5 separate regions of the Homo sapiens genome follow, and all the other regions are linked to region 2. The links come from fine-mapping of genetic effects on gene expression. A gene starts in region 2. Each other region holds a variant in brackets. All regions are shown on one strand. Distances are from middle to middle.

Evidence for each region.
Region 1: its variant is fine-mapped to the expression of CHD1L in lung (GTEx, PIP above 0.99).
Region 3: its variant is fine-mapped to the expression of CHD1L in blood mononuclear cells (TOPMed, PIP 0.92).
Region 4: its variant is fine-mapped to the expression of CHD1L in whole blood (TOPMed, PIP above 0.99).
Region 5: its variant is fine-mapped to the expression of CHD1L in whole blood (TOPMed, PIP above 0.99).

Annotation. Positions count from the first base shown.
Region 1 is chr1:147,147,248-147,152,356 of GRCh38, reverse strand. No RefSeq gene overlaps it. Among named protein-coding and RNA genes, the nearest start is that of PRKAB2, 23 kb to the left of the region's middle. The variant CT/T (reference allele first, on the strand shown) is at 2,591.
Region 2 is chr1:147,240,670-147,245,778 of GRCh38, reverse strand. CHD1L (chromodomain helicase DNA binding protein 1 like) reads right to left here and starts at 3,095. Exons shown (of 23, transcript NM_004284.6): 1 at 2,949-3,095. The coding sequence starts at 3,075. RefSeq lists a silencer at 2,644-3,263.
Region 3 is chr1:147,117,320-147,122,428 of GRCh38, reverse strand. No RefSeq gene overlaps it. Among named protein-coding and RNA genes, the nearest start is that of RNVU1-8, 35 kb to the right of the region's middle. The variant C/T (reference allele first, on the strand shown) is at 2,033.
Region 4 is chr1:147,094,940-147,100,048 of GRCh38, reverse strand. It overlaps the pseudogene NBPF13P. Among named protein-coding and RNA genes, the nearest start is that of RNVU1-8, 13 kb to the right of the region's middle. The variant T/C (reference allele first, on the strand shown) is at 2,678.
Region 5 is chr1:147,320,901-147,326,009 of GRCh38, reverse strand. No RefSeq gene overlaps it. Among named protein-coding and RNA genes, the nearest start is that of CHD1L, 81 kb to the right of the region's middle. The variant T/C (reference allele first, on the strand shown) is at 3,007.

The DNA of each region.
Region 1 (5,109 bases), 93 kb after region 2:
GTGTGATGTTCCCCTTCCTGTGTCCATGTGTTCTCATTGTTCAATTCCCACCTATGAGTGAGAACATGTGGTATTTGGTTTTTTGTTGTTGCGTTACTGACCCATTTGGATGTGGAAATACAGAAGTGTAAGACAATAAATTTGTGTTGTTTTAAGTCACTAAGTTTGTTGAAATTTGTCAACAGCAGTGATAGGAAATGAATACAACATGTCTATGGTCTGATCTAATATCTTAAATCAAGAGCCATAGGATCAAGTTGTTTCCAAGTAACTTACCTGCATCCTAGAACAAAGCTCAAGAATATTTATAGGAAAACAAAAATGTTCAGCACCAAACAAGAAAAAGTTTATCATATCCGACATCGGAAAAAAACTGAGGCACTCAAAAAAATAGAAAAATCAAACCATTATGAGAAAAAAAAAAATCCATCAATTGAAATTGACTCAGAACTGTTACATGAGGGTAGAAATAGCAGACAGTTGAAACAATAATAAGTTTATAAGTTCAAAAGCTGGAGAAAAAAGCAAACATGTTTATATATATATATAAATATGTAAGTGTGTTTTATCACGTCTGAAAGACCCAAATTGAACTTTATAGATTAAAACTACAAATCATGAGAAGAAAAGTAAACTGGATAGGCTGAACATTAGATTAGACATTGCAAAGAAAGATTATACTTGAAAGACGTAAGAATAGAAACTACACAAAATAAAACTGAAAAAGGGCTTAAAAATGAACAACACATCAGTGAATTGTGGAAAAACTTCAAGTGGCATAATAATTGGTACTATGTGTGTCCCCTCCAAAATTCATGGTGAAACTTAATCTCCATTGTGGTGGTATTAATTGGGGCCTTTTAGGAAGAGATTAGGTCTTGAGGGGTCCTCCCATGTGAATGGGATTAAGGCATTTATAAAAGAGGCTTCACACAGAGTTTTGGCCTTTTTTGCCCTCTGCCTTCTACCATGTAAGAACACAGCAACAAGCAACCATCTTGAAAGTGAAGAGCCACTCTCACTAGACACCAGTGCCGGTGCCTTGATCTAGGGCTTCCCAGCCTCCAGAACTGCACAAAATAAATTTCTATTATTTCAAAATTGCATAGGCTGTGATATTTTGTTATAGAAGCAGAAATGGACCAAGACAACTGGAATACCCAAAAGAGGTACGAGAGGAATAGGACAAATATTAGTAGAAATAGTGACCCAAATTTCCCGAAATTTGATGGAACCTATAAAGCCACAGATCTAAGTAGCTCAATTAACCCCAAGCACAAGAAATAAGAAAATAAAACAACTAAATGAAGGCAAATCATAATAAAATCTCTCAAAACCCGTTAGAAAAATTGTAAAAGCAGCCAGAGGAGAAACAACTAGTTATGTACAAAGGAAGAAAGATAAGGGTGATAGCAGATTTATCATCAAAACAATTATAAGCTAGAACACAGTGGAGCAACATCTTTTAAGTACTGAAAGAAAAAAAACCCCTACAACCTGGAATTATTTACCCAGTGAAAATACGTTTCAAAAAGTGAAGGTGAAATAAGAACTTACATTAAAAAGCTGAGGCCAGGCATGATGGCTCATGCCTGTAATCCCAGCACTTTGGGAAGTTGAGGGAGGGAGATTGCTTGAGGCCAGGACTTTGAGACCAGCCTGGGCAATATAGCAAGACCCCATCTCCAAAAAAAAAATTAGCCAGCTGTGGTGGTACGCACCTGTATTCTTACCTACTCGGGAGGCTGGGGCAAGGGCATTGCTGTTGCTTGAGCTCAGGAGTTGGAGGTTGCAGTGAGCAATGATGCAGTGCACTGCAGCCTGGGTGACAGAGTGAGCCCTTTTTTCTAACAAAAACGAAAAGGCTGGCAGAGTGACTTTCATTTCTGGGAAGATGGAATAGGCATGCTTTTCCCTATTCCTACCAGTAAGTAGAAATAAAACCCTGGACATTTTCTATACAATAAACATAAGGAGACTCTGAAAGATGAAGAGAAAAGGGCAGAAACTTCAGGCTTCAAAAAATGACACAGTGAGTTAGTTGTCTGCTCTCTTTAGCCCATGTGGACCAGGAAAGGGGCAGCCTAACAAGGGTCCACTTTCATTCTTTTGCATGTAGATATCCAGCTTCCCCAGAACCATTTGTTGAAAAAACTGTCTTTTCCCCATTGAATGGTCTTGGCACCCTTGTCAGAAATCATTTGATCATATATACAGGATTTATTTCTGGGCTTTTTATTCTATTCCATTGATCTATATGTCTTTGTGTTAGTACCACACTGTTTTGATTACTTGAGCTTTGTATTAAATTTTGAAGTCAGGAAATATGAGTCTTCCAACTTTGTTCTTTTTAAAAAATTTTTGTAGAGACAAGTTTTTGCTATGTTGCTCAGACTGGTCTTGAACTCTTGATCTCAAGCAGTCCTCCTGCCTCAGCCTTCCAAAGTGCTGGGATTACAGACATGAGCCACCATACCCAGCTTGTTCTTTTTCAATATCGTTTTGTCTATTCAGGGCCCCTTAAGATTCCATATGAATGTAAGGTGGATTTTTCTATTTTTGCAAAAAAAAAAGTTGTTGGAATTTTGGA[CT/T]AGAGGTTGCACTGAATCTGTATATCACTTTGGGTAGTATTGACATCTTAGCAATATTAAGTCTTCCAATCCATGAATATGGGACATCTTTCCACTTTTTCATGCATTCTTTAATATTTTTCTGCAATATTTTATAGTTTTCATTGTACAAGTCTTTCACTTTCTTGGCTAATTCCTATGTATATTTTTTGATGCTGTTGTAAATAAAATTATTTTCTTAATTTTCTCCTTTGATAATTGTTAGGGTATAGAAACATAAATTATTTTTGTGTGCTATTTTGTGTCCTGCTACTTTGCTAAAGTCATTTATTAGTTCTAATAGTTTTTTGTGAAATCTTTAGTGTTTTTCTACATTTCAGATTATGTCACCTATGAACAGAAGTAATTTTACTTCTTTCTTTCCAATTTGAATTCCTTTTAGCTCCCTATATTATCCCAGTAATCCTCTGGGAGATTCTCTACACTCTCTAAGGTTGTAGCAAAGACTCTTCCTTAGAGAAGACCCTGCCTTATGCCATCCTTTCTTCTCTGAGACATCCTCCTGTGGATGAGAATGGGATGAGAATGTGATGAGAATGGGATTGCCTTTGAGAATTCTCAATGTTCCAGCCTCTGATTAGGAAAAAATGTCTCATCCTATGTGCCCTGTCCCTACCTTGCTATAATATCCAGAGGTTAGAACAATTCCCACATTCTGATAAAAGTATATTTTTGAGCACTTATTTTCTACAAGTTTGAGGTCTTAAAGGAAATCTTATTCACTGACCTGTGTACCTCCAGTGCTTATCATGGTGTCCAAAAAATTAATTACTCAATAAATATTCATGAGATAATATATGTAAAACCCTTTGTAAACTGAATGTGCAGAAGAATATAATTATTACTATTTCGGTAGATGAAATGGTCCTTTTTCCTTAACCTCTCCTGGTCCTAAAAAGAACTGTTAAAGGTAAGTCTCTAACACTTCTTCAAGCACTTTTTATTCCTGCTAATCCAACAGTTGTTTCTTGGGCTCTGGGGTGTGGGGCAGAGGCTTATGGCCACATTTTTCTCCTCTTGGCATTGTGCTCCCTAGGAGTAACGCGTCCCCATTTCAAGTTGCAGGGTTCCATTCTTTTCCAGTCAATGCCCTCACTTTAACGGTAGACACCTGGCTAGGCTGTGCACTCATCTTTCATTGCAGGTCAGCCAATCGCATGATGCAAGCTTGTGTCTGTTTTTCCACAATTTCAGCTTTTTATCTACAGGATATAAGACTCTCACTCAGGGCAGTGTTAGCAGATTTGAGGTGCAGTGTCTGCTTCTGAGGCTGGGAGACAGAATCCCTGAGTTCATCCTTTTCTTTCATCACTTTGTCCACTGAACTTATGAGCAACTAACCAGCTTCATTATGTTCCTTAGTTCTTCACATATGGTCAAAGGTATTATGTATAGAGTCACTAAACTCCTTGCCTCTCATGAGCAGTGAATCATGAGTGTCAAATGCATCTATTTTGCATAACTCTCTAAACTGTTTGCACAGAAGACTATCAATGTTTTCCATACTATTAGAAGTAGAGTCCTTAGCATTTTGGGTCCAATAATATTAAGCAGCCAACTCCAGAAACCCCAAAACCAATGAAAAACTCCATCCTTAATATTCTGTTCCTCTAGAACCACCCCTGGTAGCAAAATCTGTATTAGTCAGGGTTCTCTTAGAGGGACAGAACAAATAGGATATGTGTGTATATATATATATATATATATATATATATGTATATGTGTGTGTATATATAGTTTATTTTATATATATATGTATATATATAGGAGTTTATTAAGTATTAACTTACACAATCACAAGGTCCCACAATAAGTTGTCTGCAAGCTGAGGAGCAAGGAGAGCCAGTCCGAGTCCCAAAACTGAAGAACTTGGGGTTCAATGTTTGAGGGCAGGAAGCATCCAGCATGGGAGAAAGATGGAGGCTAGGCCCGTCTCTGTCCTTTTCACGTTTTTCTGCCTGCTTTAGTTCGCTGGAAGCTGATTAGATTGTGCCCACCAGATTAAGGGTGGGTCTGCCGTTCCCAGCCCACTGACTCAAACATTAATCTCTTTTGGCAACACCCACACAGACACACCCAGGATCAATATTTTTAGTCCTTCAGTCCAATCAAGTTGACACTCAGTATTAACTATCACAGATGGGATCAACTGTAGCGTAAGAAGTGAAAAGTTACTGCATTGAACAGCCCCTAATAACTTCTGGAGAAAACATATTTCCACTTGACCCTAATGATGGCTTTAAATACCAAAATCAAAGAGAACCACTGACTTCCATTTTCTTTCAGAGATGCGAGTCTTTTAGTAAACTTAAAGTTGGAAAAATGGCTCTGTCTCTAGTGCCATGCAGTGAAACAGATAGCATGGTAGATGACATAGGCAAGGGCAGAATGGAGTTAATGACAATGACATAAGATGATAAAAAAAATAATAATTTGGGGCCTTTGAAGGAACAGATGAGCTGGCTCAGAGAAACATTAC
Region 2 (5,109 bases):
TGAAGCCCAGGTCGAGGCTGCAATGGGCCACTGCACTCCAGCCTGGGCAACAGAGTGAGACCTTATCTCAAAAAAAAAAAAAGTTGAATTTTCAAAAATAATATGTAATTATATCCACAAAGATAACAATACTTAACACTTAGGAGTCAACAGCAAAAACCAGAAATTACCCTTGGTAGGTTAGGCAGAAAGGAATGTAATACAGGGAATTAGATCACCACAAAATTGTCGAAAGGCCTGGAGGAGTAACATCTAGGCTGATCTTCTGGGTACAACTGCTAAATCAAGCACCACAGTATGGACACACCAAGGAAGTATCTACCTCCACGACCTGGAAGCCAGGAACCAACCAGGAGGCCACGGTACTGTCAGCCCCAGGGACCTATCAACGCAGCCACAATCCATGATAACAAAATGAATGCTCTGTACCCTCCCACAGACCCATGAGGTAGTAGCTAAGTGGGAAGCGGAAAATCCAAACCCCTCTGTGTCCTTCCCCTCACTTTCCCCTTCCAAATCTCCCAGTCACGTGCCTGGCTAAAGCCAAGTCACGTTTACAACCAAACTACAGTGGGGTCTGGGAAAGGTAGTCTTTAGCTTTTTAACCTCCAGATGTAGATTCTTTTGCCCTTCTGTCAGGGAGATGACAAGTAGTGAAAAAGCAAGCAAAACAGCAAGAAGTAATAGGTCTGCATATTCCAGAAACAAAAAGGTCCTAAGGTAACTTCATGATCCAAAGATGAATATCCAAATGTCCATCAATATTGGTAACCAAATAAACATTAAATTAAACAATACGATAGCATATTAACTTCTCAAATTAGAAAATACCAGTGTTGCTGAGAGTATAGAGAAATAAGCAAAAATTTTGCATACTCTTTATTCTAGAAATGGTACCTTTCAGGAATTAAACGTCCATACCTATAATAAATATTTGGTTACAAGGATATTTATGTTACTTACAATAGCAAAAAAAAGAACCTAAATACCAAGAAGAGGGACTGTCTAAACTATGGTACATCCATATACTGAAAAACTGTAACCATTAAGAATGATGTTGAAGAAGACTGAATGATAAGGAAAAAAAGTTATGATTTCCCAAAAAAATGTACATGAAACTCCATTTTTCACCTTCCCCCTCCACCAGAAAGTAAAAGAAATTATACAGGATAGAGAACATGTTAACAGTAAGGAGATTATGGAGATTAATATTTATTTTCTTTATGCATAGGCTATTTCCCTGAATGTTTTACTGAAAATACGTACTACTTCTGTAACCAAACGAAAAAAAAGTAGTAAGAATTTTTTTAACCAACTCATGAAGAATAGTTTCTCATAACACTAGTTTATTCTGGTAAACAGAAATAGAAATTACAAGTTATAATATTCAGTAGCCATTCCTTTGACTCTGCTTTTCTATTTTCCTTCTCCACTACCAATTTATCCAAGTTGCCACATTTGCCTACTTAATTCTGAATTTACTCACTCCATTCCATCCACTCAAACTTGCAACCTCTTGTCTCCTCATTTTCACTAAAACACTTGCCCATATGTACGTTTCTCCTGGCATATTATCCACAGCTAAGTATCAACTGGCACACTTTTCTGAGCCCTCTCTCACACAAGTTCTTAAAGAACCATTCCCAACACTTGCAAGGAAATAGGCAAACCCACAAACATAAACTTTCGTTAAGATAAAGTCAAACATAAAAAGACCAGTCTACAAGCTCATACTTAAAACTGGATACATACTCCTTACAGCCACACATTCTTACAGACTCAGGGAATCAAGGAGAGAGGTCTTTCTCTTTCATGTCAGCGTCCTCTCCATTCAACTTCATCTTTCAGTCTTCTAAGCTGAACACAGAATTGCACCTTTTGTTTCATTCCTAGAATGACAAACCTTACTCTTTCGTGGTACTGAGCACTTAAATAAATTAGTTTATACTTTTAAATGCACTCTCACTAGTCTAAAACTCTAGGTAGGAAGGGTCCCTATTTGTTTTGCTCATCTTTGTAGCCAATGCCTAAGAATACGCTCCCAGTAGCATTCAATAAGTAATGAATAAACGACTGTATTATTACTGATGCATGATTCTGTCAATACAGTCAAAGCACACACTACGTTCCCAACTTATAAGTAAGGAAAACGAGGCTGGGGCGGTTCAGCGGCGAGTCAGCGCAGACCCAGGAGGAGAGCGGGGTCTCGGAGCTGCAGGAAGTACGGTCAGCCATGCAGCGGCAGGGCTGGGGGGCATGCAAGGTTCGCGCTTTGCAGACTCTCCGTAAGGGCTAGTGTCAATAAATCGAGTTACGTGCGGTGGTGAGCGGACAAGCTAAGTTGGCATATAGTACGTGGTTCAGTCAGTATTTATGAATGACTCAAGACACAAAAATAGCTTCATAAACAGTGCTTTGCTTGAGTTTGTCCGCTCACTACCGCACGTAACTCGATCCGGAGAATTAATCCGTGGCGAATTCTCCAATAACTGCGCGCGCACAGTAAACGGAGAAGCTGAAGCTGGGAGATGAGTTGATCGTTTTACAGAAGCAACCAATAAACTCCCCAGGCCGGGACCCAAACCCACCGGAACAGCAACTGGAAACCTACATCCTTGGTGCACCAGGCCGTCCAACTCTTCAGCGGAGGCCTGCAGGTGGCGCTGATCTCACCACGTTTCCCCTCCACAGGCCAGGGGCCAGGCCTGGCTACCGGGCCCGCGACCTCATTCATCTGGCGTCCGCCGGCCCCGCGCGCCGCGCAGGCGGGGGCCGTGGCCACCAAGCCCGGGCGCAGTTTCTCTCCGCCCACGGCAGGAGCGAAGGAAGGCCCTGGCGCGAGCGGGTAAACTGCCCACCGGGCGGCCCACCCGCTGCGCCCCCGGCCCGCAAGAGGCAGTCCCAATAGGTTGGCCCGCCTGGCCGAAGTCCGCCCGGAGCCCGCTCACCTGTCAGCCCCCACTGCCGTAAGTCCTGCTCCTGCACCCGCGCCGCCTCGGCTCGGCCCTCAGTATGAAGCCGCAGTAAGAAGCCAGGGGCTTGGCCCCCGCGGCTAGTAGCGCCCGCGCGCTCCATCGGGCCGGTAGAGGCCCCGCCCCGCGCGGCCAAGCGCGCACCTCCCTCCCAACTTCCCAACGCGCGGGGGCGCGCGACTGCGCGCTGGGGCCCACCTACGAGCGAGGCGCCGCCAGAGGGCGCGTCCTGCCAAGATATCCGGAGCGGAGCTGGTGCAGTCACCCTTCCGGACAGGCAGTTCTTGCAGTGCGGAGCGTGGAAGGGCTGCCCAGTTCTCACCAGTCGTGCTTCTGAAGCGCTAGGCGTCTGATCACGCACAGGACGTCTGATTGCCTGAACTGCCCGTCAAGGAGGTGGCATGTGTTCATCATTCATTTATTATTTAATCAACATCGACTATCATGTGTCAGACACTCCGCTGGGCCCTGGGGGTTCTAGAAGTAAGACTTGTTCCGTGCCCTCCAGTGATTCACGATAAGATCAAACTGTTCTTGTTCGGTTTACCTAGTGATAAATTGATTTAGTCCCTGAAATCCCTTTCTTACTGCCTGTGACCTGTAGGCCAAAATTGGGAACCTCTGAATAGTAGTAAATTAAAATCACCAAAGACGTCATTGTGGCAGTGGGTATCTCAAGTGCATTATGGGGAGCAGATTGAGGCAATGTGTTCAGTTAGGGGTCACCGTGACTCAGCATCAGCTTTGAGTGGATTTATGATGTAGTATACCACTAATATAAATATGATAATAACAAAATAGCTGCATTTATTGATGAAGTTCTGGGTGGTGTCCTAAGGGCTTTAAGTATATTTTCTTATTTAACCTTCACAATAACCAATAATTAGGTGTTATAATTGTCCCCACATTGTAAATGAAGATATTGGGACTTGTAATGGTAATTGGCAGTACTGGAACAGGAACGATATTATTCTCTGGCTAATGTCATTAGAATAGTATTCTCATTTAGGTTAATCTTGGTGCTTCCTTCTTCAGTAAACTCATGTTAAATTTGTACCCTCCATTCTCATCTTCCTCTAAAATAAAAGGGAGAAATTTGTTCTGAGCTAGAAAAGGGATGACTTCAGATTGGTTTATTCATAAAAACTCAAGCAAAGCACTGTTTTATGAAGCTATTTTTGTGTCTTGAGTCATTCATAAATACTGACTTTCATGCGCGTCCGTGTGAAGAGACCACCAAACAGGCTTTGTGTGAGCAATAAAGCTGTTTATTTCACCTGGGTGCAGGTGGGCTGAGTCCGAAAAGAGTCAGCGAAGGGAGATAGGGGTGGGGTCGTTTTATAAGATTTGGGTAGGTAAAGGAAAATTACAGTCAAAGGGGGTTTGTTCTGTGGCGGGCAGGAGTGAGAGGTCACAAGGTGCTCGGTAGGGGAGCTTTTTGAGCCAGGATGAACCAGGAAAAGGACTTTCACAAGGTAATGTCATTACTTAAGGCAAAGACGGGCCATTTAAACTTCTTTTGTGGTGGAATGTCATCAGTTAAGGCAGGAACCAGCCATCTGGATGTGTACGTGCAGGTCACAGGGGATATGATGGCTTAGCTTGGGCTCAGAGGCCTGACACTGACTGAATTACATACTATGTGCCAAGCACTCTATGGTACTGAAGATAGAGGCCACTTATCTCCTGGATCTTACATTTTAAAAGGAGGAGACAAGCAATAAATAAAAATCAGGTAGTGAAGGGGTGGCCTGCCCCTCCACACTTGTGGGTATTTCTCGTCGGGTGGAATGAGAGACTTAAGAAAAAAAAGAGACACAGAGACAAAGTATAGAGAAAGAAAAGTGGGCCCAGGGAACCGGCGCTCAGCATACAGAGGACCTGCGCTGGCACCAGCCTCAGTTCCCTTAGTATTTATTGATCATTATCGGGCATTTCTCAGAGAGTGGGATGTGGCAGGACAATAGGGTAATAGTGGAGAGACGGTCAGCATGAAAACATGTGAACAAATGTCTCTGCATCATAAACAAGGTAAAGAAAAAAGTCCTGTGCTTTTGATGTGCATACACATAAACATCTCAATGCCTTAAAGAGCAGTATTGCTGCCCACATGTCCCACCTCCAGGCCTAAGGTGGT
Region 3 (5,109 bases), 120 kb after region 2:
TTCTTAACTAGTGATTGGTCTCAGTCTGTAGACTGCTCTCTACCATCCTAGAAGAAGAGAAAACAACTCATCTTCCCTGTTGGAAGAAGCAAGCTCAAACTTCATAAAGGAGTTACCTGCATTCCATTGTCATGGAAGCAGGAAAATTTGCCTTCCTGTTGAAAGCAAGTAAAACTCCAAAAAAAGAAGAGTTGTACAGTAAAATAAACTTAAGATCTCAACCAAATTTGGGGAGATCAGGGATTCTCTGGAGGGGGTGCTGTCAGATCTCAGCAAATTATCCTATTGGCTTGAGCCATAAAGTTAGCTCATGCTGGTACCAAGCACTGACAGGAGATTTGTCAAAGGTCAGGGGCATCTCCACTCAGAATCCCCCCGTGGTGGTTACCAAAATGTGAACCCAACAAATCTGAGACAGGTCTCAGTTGATTTAGAAGGTTTATTTTGCCAAGGTTGAGGACGCACAAGGACACAGCCTCAGGAGGTCCTGACGACATGTACCCAAGGTGGTTGGGGCACGGCTTAGTTTTATACATTTAGGGAGACATGAGACATCAACCAATATATGTAAGAAGTAAATTGGTTCAGTCTGGAAAGACAGGAAATCTTGAAGGAAAGGCAGGAAAACTCAAAGTGGAGAGGGAGCTTCCATGGGAGGGAGCTTCCAGGTCACAGATGGGTGACACACAAATGGTTACATTATTTTGAGTATCTGATTAGCCTTTCCAAAGTAGTCAAATCAGATATACATCTATCTCAGTGAGCAGAGGAGTGATTGAATAGAATGGGAGGCAGGTTTGCCTTAAGCAGTTCCCAGCTTGAGTTTTCCTTAGTGATTTTGGAGGCCCAAGATATTTTCCTTTCACAGTCCCATAGTCCTAGAAGCCTTCCCAGCTGTACAGAAAATCACTACTTTATGCCCCAGTGCAGGAGAGGCTGCAAGGCTTGGGAAAGTGTCCCATGATTCAGAGTCAGACCTCAGGGGCTGTGAATTCTGACCCTACCTCATTCCAGGTGAATCATCTTGTCAAGTTGCTTGGTGGGCCCCTGAGCTTTTTTCCTATCTCTAAGTTGGGGAGTATCAGATGCCAGGAAGTGAGGAGACTGAAGAGTAAAGATGTGCAATCCCTGCCTAGAGCCTGGTACTGGGGACAGTTTTGTCCTTGGGATGGACCTGGCTCCTGCCCTGTAGGCAGTGACTGCAACAGCATGTCCAGCCTTCCACTGAGGCAGGTGTGTCTGTCTTTTCTCAGAGTGTGAAGAGTGCAAAGACCTCATAAAATCTAGGCTGAGGGATGAGCTGCAGTTCAAGGAGGAGAAGCTGGCAGAGAAGCTCAGGCAAGCTGGAAAGCTCAGGTGAGGGGGCCCCATTGGGGGCAGGCAGGTGGGCAGGAGTGTGAATCTCTGTGCAGCAGCTCAGCGGGGGAGAAGTAAGAGCTAAGCCGAGCCAGGGGAAGGGCAGGAATTGCCATGGCAGACACATGTCACACAAATATTTATAAAACAGAGAACAATAATAGTAATTTATGGGTTGCAGTTATTTCTCAGAGCCTCGTTTTCTCTTTTTCTAACAAGTAATTGTTGAGGTGAAATTTGCATAACACAAAATTAACCAAAGGAAAGTGAACTACCCAGCAGCATTCAGTATACTCAAGATGCTGTGCGATCACCACTGCATTTACTCTTAGTCAGAATCAACTCCTAACTGACTTGGGCTTCTCATTTCTTCAACCACTATTGCCTTCTTGACACTGTCATTCTTTTATTCTTTCATGTTTCCAGTTGTACCTGGCCACATTTCTGTGCACGGCTTTGTGTCCAGTCACTGAATAATGCACGATGTGTATTTGAACATGAAAATGTCCACAGGCAAAATGAGAAATTGAAGGAAAATCCTTTTGGAACTGATTTGGTTACAGAAGAAAAAGATGAATGGAATGTTGAAAAATCTTCCTGGAGCTCTCTCTCTCTATCGCAGTGGGGAAGACCTGTTTTTTTAAAAAAATACATTTTTCTTTCTCTTTGCAACAGG[C/T]ATTTCCTTTAATATGTGCTGACTTTCTGCGTGGAGGGCTCCTTTGTTTCGATATTAGAACTGATCACTCATCTCTTTCCACTACTAAATTTTCTCTACTATCCCACCTTAGGCAATATAAAGTCTCTGTTCACTCCCAGGCCCGAGAGCCGGCCCAGTTACAGGACAAGTTACGGGAAGGGAGAGATGCCTTCCTCTTACTGAATCAGCATCTCAAGGCCCTCCTCACTCCTGATGATTCTGACAACTCCCAGGGGCAGGACCTCTGAGAGCAGGCTGGCTGAGCACCTTGTCCACAAGCTCAGCCCAGATAAGGAGACCACAGGCCCTGATGACACAAAACCCCAGGCTTGTGAGAGACTCTACACCTCCATACCTCCACAATGACAGTTACATAGGTGGTGTTTCTTTCCATTAAACATATGTGGCCATGACATGACCAGGATTTCCTGGGTAGGAACAGAGACAAGAAGTCCATGGGGTTAGAGGTCACAGTATTGCAAATGTCTCCTCCTCCTTGATAGTCACGTTCTTTGGAGCAAGAGGCCATATCCATTCAGTTTTAAAGGATAGGAAGGAGGCTGTGACAGGAGGCAACTTGTTAGAGTAAAAAGAGTCCTGGATTAAGAATGAAGTTTCCCAGGCTGTATCTTCAGCAATGTCCTTAGTAACCTTGGGTGAGTGATTGATTTATCCTTTCTGGATTTCTTTGTCTAAATCTCTACAGGGGTCAAAATGTCTCTTCAATGGTAGATACAGCATTCAAATATGGGAACACTTATGATTACATTTCAAAATAAGATGAAGCCCCTCACCGTGTGGTGTTGGAGAAGGCACTTGATGTGGGGGCATTTGGTGGTAGGAAGTGCTTCAGACTGGAGCACTCCCCATGGAGAGAATGTCCCTGAATAACACAGCAGAAGCCAACTTGGAGGGCTTGTGAAGTCTCCCAATGCATGGAGAAAGGTGGGACAAGGCTGTTTGTCCTCCCGTAAGAGAAAGAAATATATTCTAAATGTGAGAGTTGTGACAGGACACCGATCCTGTGCCTGGGAATCAGATCTGTGGCAGGATGGGGAAGACAGCTGCCAAAGTCCAGAAAGATGCTGGACAAGCCTCCAGTGATACGGGGAGCAAAAGGTCTTTTCAATATTTGGCCACAGCTTGATGGTGGCCCTCCAGATCAGAAATTCATTGCCTGATGGATCAGGAAACCATACCAGGGAATTTTGTTAAAGATAAAACATGAGAGCTTTCAGCACAATGCTGACCCATACATAGATGTTAATGTCTCTGTGCACATAGGGCTTGCTGTACTTGCAGTGTGTGAAGTGAGGAATATCTAAATGGACACTTCTATATTTGTTTGCAGAGAATGATGAAGGTGATAATGAAAATGATAAAGATGAAGAGATTCATAAAGGATGAGAATCACCTGCCCCCAGGTAACACTGAATAATCAGGCAGGTAGTGGGTGGATAAACCATGGAAAAGGTCTTAGAAAGAATACAAGTGAGTTGAAGGTAGTCACAGATTCCAGATGGAGGGTAAAGAAAGCTGCAGAGTGTGCTCATTTCATGCGCTCACCCAACAAGGAAATAGCCCTAGTCCATTGTCTTCATGGTCCTTGTAAGCATGACCCTCGATAAACCCACCAGCCCTAGGGATTTCCTGCATTCACAGAGAACTGTTCTCTCCTGTAATGAAAACCAGGAGGAGATGCAAAGCTGCTTTCTACATGATTGTCTTCAGGTTCTTGTTAAGAAAGATAAATAGCAAAGAGGTGGGCCAGGCATGGTGGCTCACACCTGTAATCCCAGCACTTTGGGAGGCCAATGTGGGTGGATCACCTGAGGTCAGCAGTTCGAGACCAGCCTGGCCAACATGGCAAAATTTCGTCTCTACTAAAAATACAAAAATTAACCAGGTGTGGTGGTGGGTACTTGTAATCCCAGCTACTTGGGAGGCTGAGGCAGGAGAATCGCTTGAATCCGGGAGGTGGAGTTTGCAGTGAGCCAAGATTGTGCCACTGCACACCAGCCTGGGCAACAGAGCGAGAATGTGTCTCAAAAAAATAGTAAAGAGGTAACAAACAGAGGAATTATTTAGGAAGTTTCTAGAAAATATAAACATCAAGAGAAGTACCTAGAAAAAAATTGTACATTTCACAATATTAAAAAAAAAAAAGACCTAGAAGGCACACCATTTCTGGAGCCTACAGTGGCTCAAGAGCCTGTATTCCTTTGGCCACAGTATTTAAATTCAACCCAACTTTGGCACACGATGTAGCAGCTGTTATGGTTCTCCATGCATGCTGAGTGTCACATCTGCACACATAGAGACAGTTGAGCCTCCATCTTCTTCAGCTCCTATCTTCCCAGTGCAATGAACACCAGCTGCTCTCTTCCTCTTTGGCTCCCATGGCATCCACAATCTCTTGCAGAGAGAGGAGGAGTGCCTGTTCCCTCTTAGAGGGAGCCACCCCTTTGCTTTTGGGGACAATTCTCTTATGCCTCTGTCAAAACTGGCTAGGACTCCCTGGTGTCCAATCCCTCTCTGTTTAATATTTTGCCATCTCTATCCCACCTGACTCATCAGGGAGGTGCAGAAGGCTGAAGAAAAGGAAGTCCCTGAGGACTCACTGGAGGAATGTGCCGTCACTTGTTCAAATAGCCACGGCACTTAGGACTCCAACCAGCCACACAGGAACACCAAAATCACATTTGAGGCAGACAAATTTGACTCTGGGCTGGTTGTAGACAGTGAATCCTCTCATGATGAATGGGAGGATGCTCTACACATTCTCCCAGGTAGACTCTATATTCCCTGTCCCTCATACCTCTGTCTAGGCTGAGGAAGATCAACTCTGAAAAAGAGCTCTATACAAACAAATTGGTTTGAATTAGAAATTAGGATGGGGTACTAAACACAGATATCAGGAGGTTTAGGGAGTTTTCCTCTCCTCCTCAGCCCATATCATGCCTCTGTCTCCCTGTTCCCAGTGTCATGGACCCCAGGCAATTGGGACAAACTCATAGTTACCTTTGTCCAGGAGGTGTGCAGGAGGTATCTATCAA
Region 4 (5,109 bases), 150 kb after region 2:
CACTTCAGCCAGCCTGAGGCTTACCCTGCAGCTGGTCCTCCCAGCAGGAGCTCAGTTTGCCCCTGGGTTATCATCACTTAGCAGTCCCTCCAGACTCAGCCAGACAGGACCAGACAAAGATTCTCATTTGATTTTTGTCTCTCTCTCCCCTAAAGATACCAAATACTGCTGGAAGAATGAAAAGGATGAAAGGATGTCATCAAAGTAGTTTTTTCACTTGATGGAAAAGACTAAAACAGCAAAGCAAGTTCAAGATCAAACACAACACCACAGGGATCCTTTGATGAGAAGTGAACTTAAGACCATGAAATGCTGTTGATGATTTTAACCCACCAGCCTCCTTTGATTTGAGAAGCCACAGCCCTTCCCCCTCCAATTGTGATCAACTATGATCAGTACCTAAGGAGACTGATGCCCAGATGAACAAACAGCATTGAGAGGCCTTAGCCCTGCTCCTCTCAATTCCTATCCCGTAGAGAACAGGAGTCAGGAGCCGCTGGCAGGAGACAGCATGTCACCCGGGACTTTGCCAGTGCAGAATAAGAACAATGCCACGTTCTTGCTGAAAGCACTTAGCCTGAGTTTCGTAGGAGGTAATCACCAGACAACTGCAGAATGTAGAACACTGAGCAGGACAACTGACCTATCTCCTTCACACAGTCCACGTCACCATGAATCACACAACAAAAAAGAGAAGAGACATTTTGGGTTGAAAAAGATTGAAAAGATAATGTAGCTACACTTCTTTGGTCATTTTGAACCCAAAGCATCTCATCTTTTTATTGTTGTCACTGATGGTGGTGACATGGATTTGTTTGTAGAGGACAGGTCAGCTGTCTAGATCATGGTCTACATTCTGAATTTGTCTGAAAATGTCCTTATGATTAAATTCAGCCTAAACATTTTGCTGGGAACACTGCAGAGTCAATGCGGTGAGTTTCCTACCTCAGCCCATCTGCAGGCAGAGAAGGTCCAGTTTGTCCATCACCAGTATCATGATACCAGGACTGGTCAGTTGGTTAAGGAGGGGCCTAGGAGATCTTTCACTTGTAAAGACTCCTTATTTATAATTCATTTGGAAAGTGGTTTGAAAAAGTATAAATATCTTGTATTCTAACGATCTTCCTCTGAACATTTTATCATCAATTAATCACCCCTGCCTGTGTCAGTTATTATATTTCGTGGGCGGCAAGCCATCCAGGTGCCGAGGCAAGAGACTGAGGGCATGAGCTGTTCCAGTATAATAAAATATATAAAACAACAAGAGTTATACTAGATCTAGATCATAGACATGATTATATATGAATATCATTAATCATTAGTTTGTAGCAATTACTCTTTATTCCAATATTATAATAATCCTCGCTCTATAATCATAACCTAGGAAAAACTAGGCCATACAGAGATAGGAGCTGAGGGGACACAGTGAGAAGTGACCAGAAGACAAGAGGGCCAGCCTTCTGTTATGCCCGGACAGGGCCACCAGAGGGCTCCTTGGTCTAGTGGTAATGCCAGCATCTGGGAAGACGCCCATTGCCATGTGGACCGTGGTCTAGCGGTAGCCTCAGTGTCAAGGAAAAACACCCACTACTTAGTGGACTGGGTAAGGGAGTCTCCCTTTCCCCTGGGGAGTTTAGCAAAGATTCTACTCCTCCACCTCTTGTGGAGGGCCTGACATCAGTCAGGCTCGCCCGCAGTTATCTGGAGGCCTAACCGTCTCCCTGTGATGCTGTGCTTCAGTGGTCATGCTCCTAGTCTGCCTTCATGTTCCATCCTGTACACATAGTGCTGCAGTGGACATATGCCAGCATGTATCTTTATAACAGAATGACTTATATTCCTTTGGGTATATGCCCAGTAGTGGAATTACTGGTCAAATGGTATTTCTGCCTGTAGGTCTTTGAGGAGTAGCCACAGTGTCTTTCCCAATGGTTAGACTGACTTACACTCCCACCAACAGTGTAAAAGCATTCCTTTTTCTATGCAACCTTGCCAACATCGGTTGTGGATTTTTTTCTATTTTTGCCTATGGATGTCCATTTTTTCAGCAGAATTTGTTAACAGGACAATGCTTTCTCCCCTGAATTGTTTTGAACCATTGTCCGCCCATTGGCAGGCATGAGACTGGAGAGAGGACTGTCCTATCATTGGAGGGACAGGGCTTGAAATAGGGCAGGTCTTATGGAAAAGAAAAGGAACACTTATTTTTTCAATGAGGCAGAGGAAAGCCCCAAGCACAAGTGGGGTACTCCCTACCCCATGTGTGGCACACTCGCCTCTGCTCTCCTGCCTCTCCTGCTGCACAAGTTTGGGTGTGCATGGACACTGAGGCCGTGTTGTGCCACTGGGCACATTTGGGCATTGACATCAAATGTGTGGCATCAAATCCCAGAATCTCAAGCAGGCAAGTGACAGGAAAACATGAGACACAACGAAGAATGAAATAATTCAGTTGAAAATGACACACATGTTAGAAATAGCAGACAAGGACATTACAGCAGTTATTATAATTTTAATTAAGTGAAGAATTGGGAGATATTTTTTAATATCAAATTCCATAAGTGAAAACTGCGATTTACAGTCTGAAGTTTAAAAAAAATACACTTGATTAAACATTGCAGAAGAAAAGATTAATGAACTAGAAGGAGTAGTAGAAGAAACTAACACAAATGAAACA[T/C]GCAGGGAAAAATGAATTGAAAACATAAAAAGCCCATCAATGGGAGGCTTAAACACCCTACTGTAGGGGTAAATGGAATCCCTGAGGGGAATGGAGTGGGTAACAGGGATAGAAAAATATTTAAAACACACTGGATGGAAGCTTTCTAAGCTTCATGAACACCATAAACTGCAAATATCCCAGAAACATAATGTATCCTAAGGACAAGAAACATGAAGAAAACTACACTAAGGAACACCATACTCAAATTGATCAAAACCAGTAATGAAGAGAAAATCCTAAGAGGGCTAAAAGGGGAACAAATATGTTATATACTGAGGACTAAATGTAAGGATGGCATCTGATTTCTCATCAGAAATATTACAAACAAGAAGTTTGCAATACTTTTAAGTACTGAAAAAAAAGTCAACCTAGAATTCTATACCCACTGAAAATCTTTTTCAAAAATGAAGATGAGGCTGGGTACAGTGGCTCACAGCTGTAATCACAGCACTTTGGGAGGCCGAGGCAGGCGGATCACGAGGTCAGGAGTTCGAGACCAGCCTGGCCAATATGGTGAAACACTGTCTCTACTAAAAATATAAAAATTAATTGGGTGTGGTGGTGGGCACCTGTAGTCTCAGCAACTCTGGAGGCTGAGGCAGAAGAATTGCTTGAAACTGGGAGTTGGAGGTTGCAGTGAGCTGAGATCAGGCCACTGCCCTCCAGCCTGGACAACAGAGTGAGACTGCATCTCAAAAAAAAAAAAAAGAAGATGAGCAAAAATGGTTTGGAAAGAAAACAAATTATCTCAATTTGTAGATGACATGATCCTATATAGAGAAAATACCAAATAATACACACACACACACACACACACACACACACACACACACTACGGGAGTTAATAAACTAATTCGGCAAACTTGTAGCACACAAGATAAATGGACAAAAACCAGTTGCTTTAGCAATGAAAAAAATTTTGAAGGAAAATTAATATACTTCATTTATAATAGCACCCATAAGAATAACACATCTAGGAATAAATTTAAGAAGGTGAAATACTTGTACACTGAAAACTACCTAACATTGCTTAAAGAGATTAAAGAAGAACTAAAAAAATGGAAAGACATCCTGTGTCCATTGTTGGAAGATTTAACATGGTTAAGATGGAAATGAAACTCAAAACAATCTACAGATTCAGTGTAATGTTATTCAAATTCCAGTGGCCTGTTTTTTCAGAAATTAAAAAAACAGAACTTTTTATTTGGAAGAAATTGCAAGTATCTGCAAATAGCAAAAGGAATCTTGAAAAATACGATAAATAACTTATATTCCAAAGATCTTTTTTATTTTAATTTTTTAAATTTGTTTTTGAAATGGAGTCTTACTCTGTCATCCACACTGGAGTGCAGTGGTATGATCTCTGTTCATTGTAACCTCCGTCTCCCAGGTTAAAATGACTCCCTTGCCTCAGACTCCTGAGTTGCTGGGACCACAGGCATCCACCAGCACTCCGGGCTAATTCTTTGCATTTTTAGTGGAGACTAATGGGTTTCACCACATTTGCCAGTCTGGTCTCGAACTCCTGACTTCAAGTGATCCACTCACCTTGGCCTCCTAAAGTGCTGGGATTACAGGCCTGAGCCACCACACCTGGCCTCCAAAGATCTTGTATTGCTCTCTGCAATATTTCATAGTCTTCAGTGTACAGGTGTTCACCTCTTTTGCTATGTAGTTCATATTTTTCGATGGTATTGTTAATGTTTGTTTAAAGGAATCTTTTAAAAATTTTTATTAAAATGCTATACTATTAAAGTCTACAACATGATGGTTTGATATACATATACATAATGAACTAATGGCTACAGTCAGGCTAATTAGCATATCCACCTTCTCACATAGTTCCTTTTTTAGTGTAGTGAGAACACTTTTGATCTACTGTTTCAGCAAACTTCAAGTATACAATACAGCATTAACAATAGTTCTCACGCTGTACATTAGATCTCTAAAACTCATTCTGTAACCAAAAGCAGGTCAGTTGCTCACCACATGTAGAGTCCAATTAAGTGTGAGGCCCGCTACAAAAAAAGTGAATTTATTTCCAAAGGTAGCTTGGGGGAGAAGCACAAAACCTCTCCTTTGGAGCAAAAAGTGGATATTTTTATTAGGTAAATGGGGAAGTGAGCAAGGACAGGGAGTCTCCCTGCTCCCAGGCAGTTATCCACTGGGCAGCCAAGGTGGTGCCTTTCTGGTCAGAAGTAAGTTGTAAAAGTGGCCAAGTGAGCCTGCTTTCGACATGCCCTCCTAGTGGGTGTAAGTTCTGAGGTGACCCTTCATTCACTATCGGTAGACACTTAGGCTGTTTTCATGTCTTGACTACTGTGAAGAATGCTGTGATAAACACGGGGGTGCAAATAGCTCTTTGAGATACTGACTTCATTTCCTTCGAT
Region 5 (5,109 bases), 80 kb before region 2:
ACAAATGCTGAGAGATTTTGTCACCACCGGGCCTGCCCAAAAAGAGCTCCTGAAGGAAGCGCTAAACATGGAAAGGAACAACCGGTACCAGCCACTGCAAAATCATGCCAAAATGTAAAGACCATCGAGACTAGGAAGAAACTGCATCAACTAACGAGCAAAATAACCAGCTAACATCATAATGACAGGATCAAATTCACACATAACAATATTAACTTTAAATGTAAATGGACTAAATGCTCCAATTAAAAGACACAGACTGGCAAATTGGATAAAGAGTCAAGACCCTTCAGTGTGCTGTATTCAGGAAACCCATCTCACGTGCAGAGACACACACAGGCTCAAAATAAAAGGATGGAGGAAGATCTACCAAGCAAATGGAAAACAAAAAAAGGCAGGGGTTGCAATCCTAGTCTCTGATAAAACAGACTTTAAACCAACAAAGATCAAAAGAGACAAAGAAGGCCATTACATAATGGTAAAGGGATCAATTCAACAAGAAGAGCTAACTATCCTAAATATATATGCACCCAATACAGGAGCATCCAGATTCATAAAGCAAGTTCTGAGTGACCTACAAAGACACTTAGACTCCCACACATTAATAATGGGAGACTTTAACACCCCACTGTCAACATTAGACAGATCAACGAGACAGAAAGTCAGCAAGGATACCCAGGAATTGAACTCAGCTCTGCACCAAGCAGACCTAATAGACATCTACAGAACTCTCCACCCCAAATCAACAGAATATACATTTTTTTAGCACCACACCACACCTATTCCAAAATTGACCACATAGTAGGAAGTAAAGCTCTCCTCAGCAAATGTAAAAGAACAGAAATTATAACAAACTGTCTCTCAGACCACAGTGCAATCAAACTAGAACTCAGCATTAAGAATCTCACTCAAAACCGCTCAACTACATGGAAACTGAACAACCTGCTCCTGAAGGACTACTGGGTACATAACGAAATGAAGGCAGAAATAAAGATGTTCTTTGAAACCAACGAGAACTAAGACACAACATACCAGAATCTCTGGGATGCATTCAAAGCAGTGTGTAGAGGGAAACTTATAGCACTAAATGCCCACAAGAGAAAGCAGGAAAGATCCAAAATTGACACCTAACATCACAATTAAAAGAACTAGAAAAGCAAGAGCAAACACATTCAAAAGCTAGCAGAAGGCAAGAAATAACTAAAATCAGAGCAGAACTGCAGGAAGTAGAGACACAAAAACCCCTTCAAAAAATTAGTGAATCCAGGAGCTGGTTTTTTGAAAGGATCAACAAAATTGATAAACTGCTAGCAAGACTAATAAAGAAAAAAAGAGAGAAGAATCAAATAGATGCAATAAAAAATGATAAAGGGGATATCAACACCGATCCCACAGAAATACAAACTATTATTAGAGAATACTACAAACACCTCTACGCAAATAAACTAGAAAATCTAGAAGAAATGGATAAATTCCTCGACACATACACTCTCCCAAGACTAAACCAGGAAGAAGTTGAATCTCTGAATGGACCAATAACACACTCTGAAATTGTGGCAATAATCAATAGCTTACCAACCAAAAAGAGTCCAGGACCAGATGGATTCACAGCCGAATTCTACCAGAGGTACAAGGAGGAACTGGTACCATTCCTTCTGAAACTATTCCAATCAATAGAAAAAGAGGGAATCCTCCCTAACTCATTTTATGAGGCCAGCATCATCCTGATACCAAAGCCGGGCAGAGACACAACCAAAAAAGAGAATTTTAGACCAATATCCTTGATAAACATTGATGCAAAAATCCTCAATAAAATACTGGCAAACTGAATCCAGCAGCACATCAAAAAGCTTATCCACCATGATCAAGTGGGATTCATCCCTGGGATTCAAGGCTGGTTCAATATACTCAAATCAATAAATGTAATCCAGCATATAAACAGAACCAAAGACAAAAACCACATGATTATCTCAATAGATGCAGAAAAGGCCTTTGACAAAATTCAACAACCCTTCATGCTAAAAACTCTCAATAAATTAGGTATTGATGGGACATATTTCAAAATAATAAGAGCTATCTATGACAAACCCACAGCCAATATCATACTGAATGGGCAAAAACCGGAAACATTCCCTTTGAAAACTGGCACAAGACAGGGATGCCCTCTCTCACCACTCCTATTCAACATAGTGTTGGAAGTTCTGGCCAGGGCAATTAGGCAGGAGAAGGAAATAAAGGGTATTCAATTAGGAAAAGAGGAAGTCAAATTGTCCCTGTTTGCGCATGACATGATTGTATATCTCGAAAACCCCATTGTCTCAGCCCAAAATCTCCTTAAGCTGATAAGCAACTTCAGCAAAGTCTCAGGATACAAAATCAATGTACAAAAATCACAAGCATTCTTATACACCAATAACAAACAGAGAGCCAAATCATGAGTGAACTCCCATTCACAATTGCTTCAAAGAGAATAAAATACCTAGGAATCCAACTTACAAGGGATGTGAAGGACCTCTTCAAGAAGAACTACAAACCACTGCTCAGTGAAATAAAAGAGGATACAAAGAAATGGAAGAACATTCCATGCTCATGGGTAGGAAGAATCAATATCGTGAAAATGGCCATACTGCCCAAGGTAATTTACAGATTCAATGCCATCCCCATCAAGCTACCAATGACTTTCTTCACAGAATTGGAAAAAACTACTTTAAAGTTCATATGGAACCAAAAAAGAGCCCGCATCGCCAAGTCAATCCTAAGCCAAAAGAACAAAGCTGGAGGCATCACACTACCTGACTTCAAACTATTCTACAAGGCTACAGTAACCAAAACAGCATGGTACTGGTACCAAAACAGAGATATAGACCAATGGAACAGAACAGAGCCCTCAGAAATAATGCCGCATATCTACAACTATCTGATCTTTGACAAACCTGAGAAAAACAAGCAATGGGGAAAGGATTTCCTATTTAATAAATGGTGCTGGGAAAACTGGCTAGCCATATG[T/C]AGAAAGCTGAAACTGGATCCCTTCCTTACACCTTATACAAAAATCAATTCAAGATGAATTAAAGACTTAAACTTTAGACCTAACACCATAAAAACCCTAGAAGAAAACCTAGGCTTTACCATTCAGGACATAGGCATGGGCAAGGACTTCATGTCTAAAACACCAAAAGCCATGGCAACAAAAGCCAAAATTGACAAATGGGATCTAATTAAACTAAAGAGCTTCTGCACAGCTAAAGAAACTACCATCAGAGTGAACAGGCAACCTACAAAATGGGAGAAAATTTTCACAACCTACTCATCTGACAAAGGGCTAATATCCAGAATCTACAATGAACTCAAACAAATTTACAAGAAAAAAACCCCATTAAAAAGTGGGCAAAGGACATGAACAGACACTTCTCAAAAGAAGACGTTTATGCAGCCAAAAAACACATGAAAAAATGCTCACCATCACTGGCCATCAGAGAAATGCAAATCAAAACCACAATGAGATACCATCTCACGCCAGTTAGAATGGCAATCATTAAAAAGTCAGGAAACAACAGGTGCTGGAGAGGATGTGGAGAAATAGGAACACTTTTACACTGTTGGTGGGACTGTAAACTAGTTCAACCATTGTGGAAGTCAGTGTGGCGATTCCTCAGGGATCTAGAACTAGAAATACCATTTGACCCAGCCATCCCATTACTGGGTATATACCCAAAGGACTATAAATCATGCTGCTATAGAGACACATGCACACGTATGTTTATTGTGGCACTATTCACAATAGCAAAGACTTGGAACCAACCCAAATGTCCAACAATGATAGACTGGATTCAGAAAAAGTGGCACATATACACCATGGAATACTATGCAGCCATAAAAAATGATGAGTTCATGTCCTTTGTAGGGACATGAATGAAATTAGAAATCATCATTCTCAGTAAACTACCGCAAGAACAAAAAACCAAACACTGCATATTCTCACTCATAGGTGGGAATTGAACAATGAGAACACATGGACACACGAAGGGGAACATCACACTCTGGGGACTGTTGTGGGGTGGGGGGGAGGGGGGAAGGATAGCTTTAGGAGATATACCTAATGCTAGATGACGAGTTAGTGGGTGCAGCGCACCAGCATGGCACATGTATACATATGTATCTAACCTGCACATTGTGCACATGTACCCTAAAACTTAAAGTATAATAAAAAAAAATTTTTTTTCTTTCATTTAATAGGTTGTCTTTTCACTTTCTGATAGTGTCTGCTACACAAAAGTGCTTATTTTCTTTTTAAGTTTTTAATTTTGTGGGTGCATAGCAGCTATGTATATTGATGGGGTACGTGAGATACTTTGATACAGGCATGCAAGGTGTAGTAATCACATTAGGATAAATAAAGTATCCATCACCTCAAAAAAAAAAAAAAAACCCAGCTCCTGGATTCATTGATTTTTTTTGGAGGGTTTTTCGTGTTTCTATCTCCTTCATTTGTGCTCTGATGTTATTTATTTCTTGTATTCTCCTAGTTTTAAAACTAATTTGCTCTTGTTTCTCTAGCTCTTTTAATGATGAAGTTAGGTTGTCAATTTGAGATTTTTAGCTTTCTGATATGGGCATTTAGTGCTATAAATCTCCCTCTTAACAGTGCTGTAGCTGTGTTCTAGAGATTCCGGTATATTGTCTCTTTGTTCTCATCGGTTTCAAAGAACTTCTGGATTTCTACCTTAATTTCGTCATATATCCAGGAGTCATTCAGGAGAAGGTTGTTCAAGTTGCATGTAATTTTGTGGTTTTGAGTGAATTTCTTAATCCTGAGTTCTAATTAGATTGTACTATATTCTAAGATAATTTTGTTATGATTTCAGTTCTTTTCCATTTGCTGAGGGAGTGTTTTAATTCTAATTATGTGGTCTGTTTTAGAGTAAGTGCTATGTGGTGCTGAGAAGAATGTATATTCTGTTGATTTGAGGTGGAGAGTTCTGTAGACGTCTATTAGGTTCACTTGATCCAGAGCTGAGTTCAAGTCCTGAATATCCTTGTTAATTTTCTGTCACATTGATCTGTCTAATATCGACAGTGGAGTGTTAAAGTCTCCCACTATTATTGTGTGAG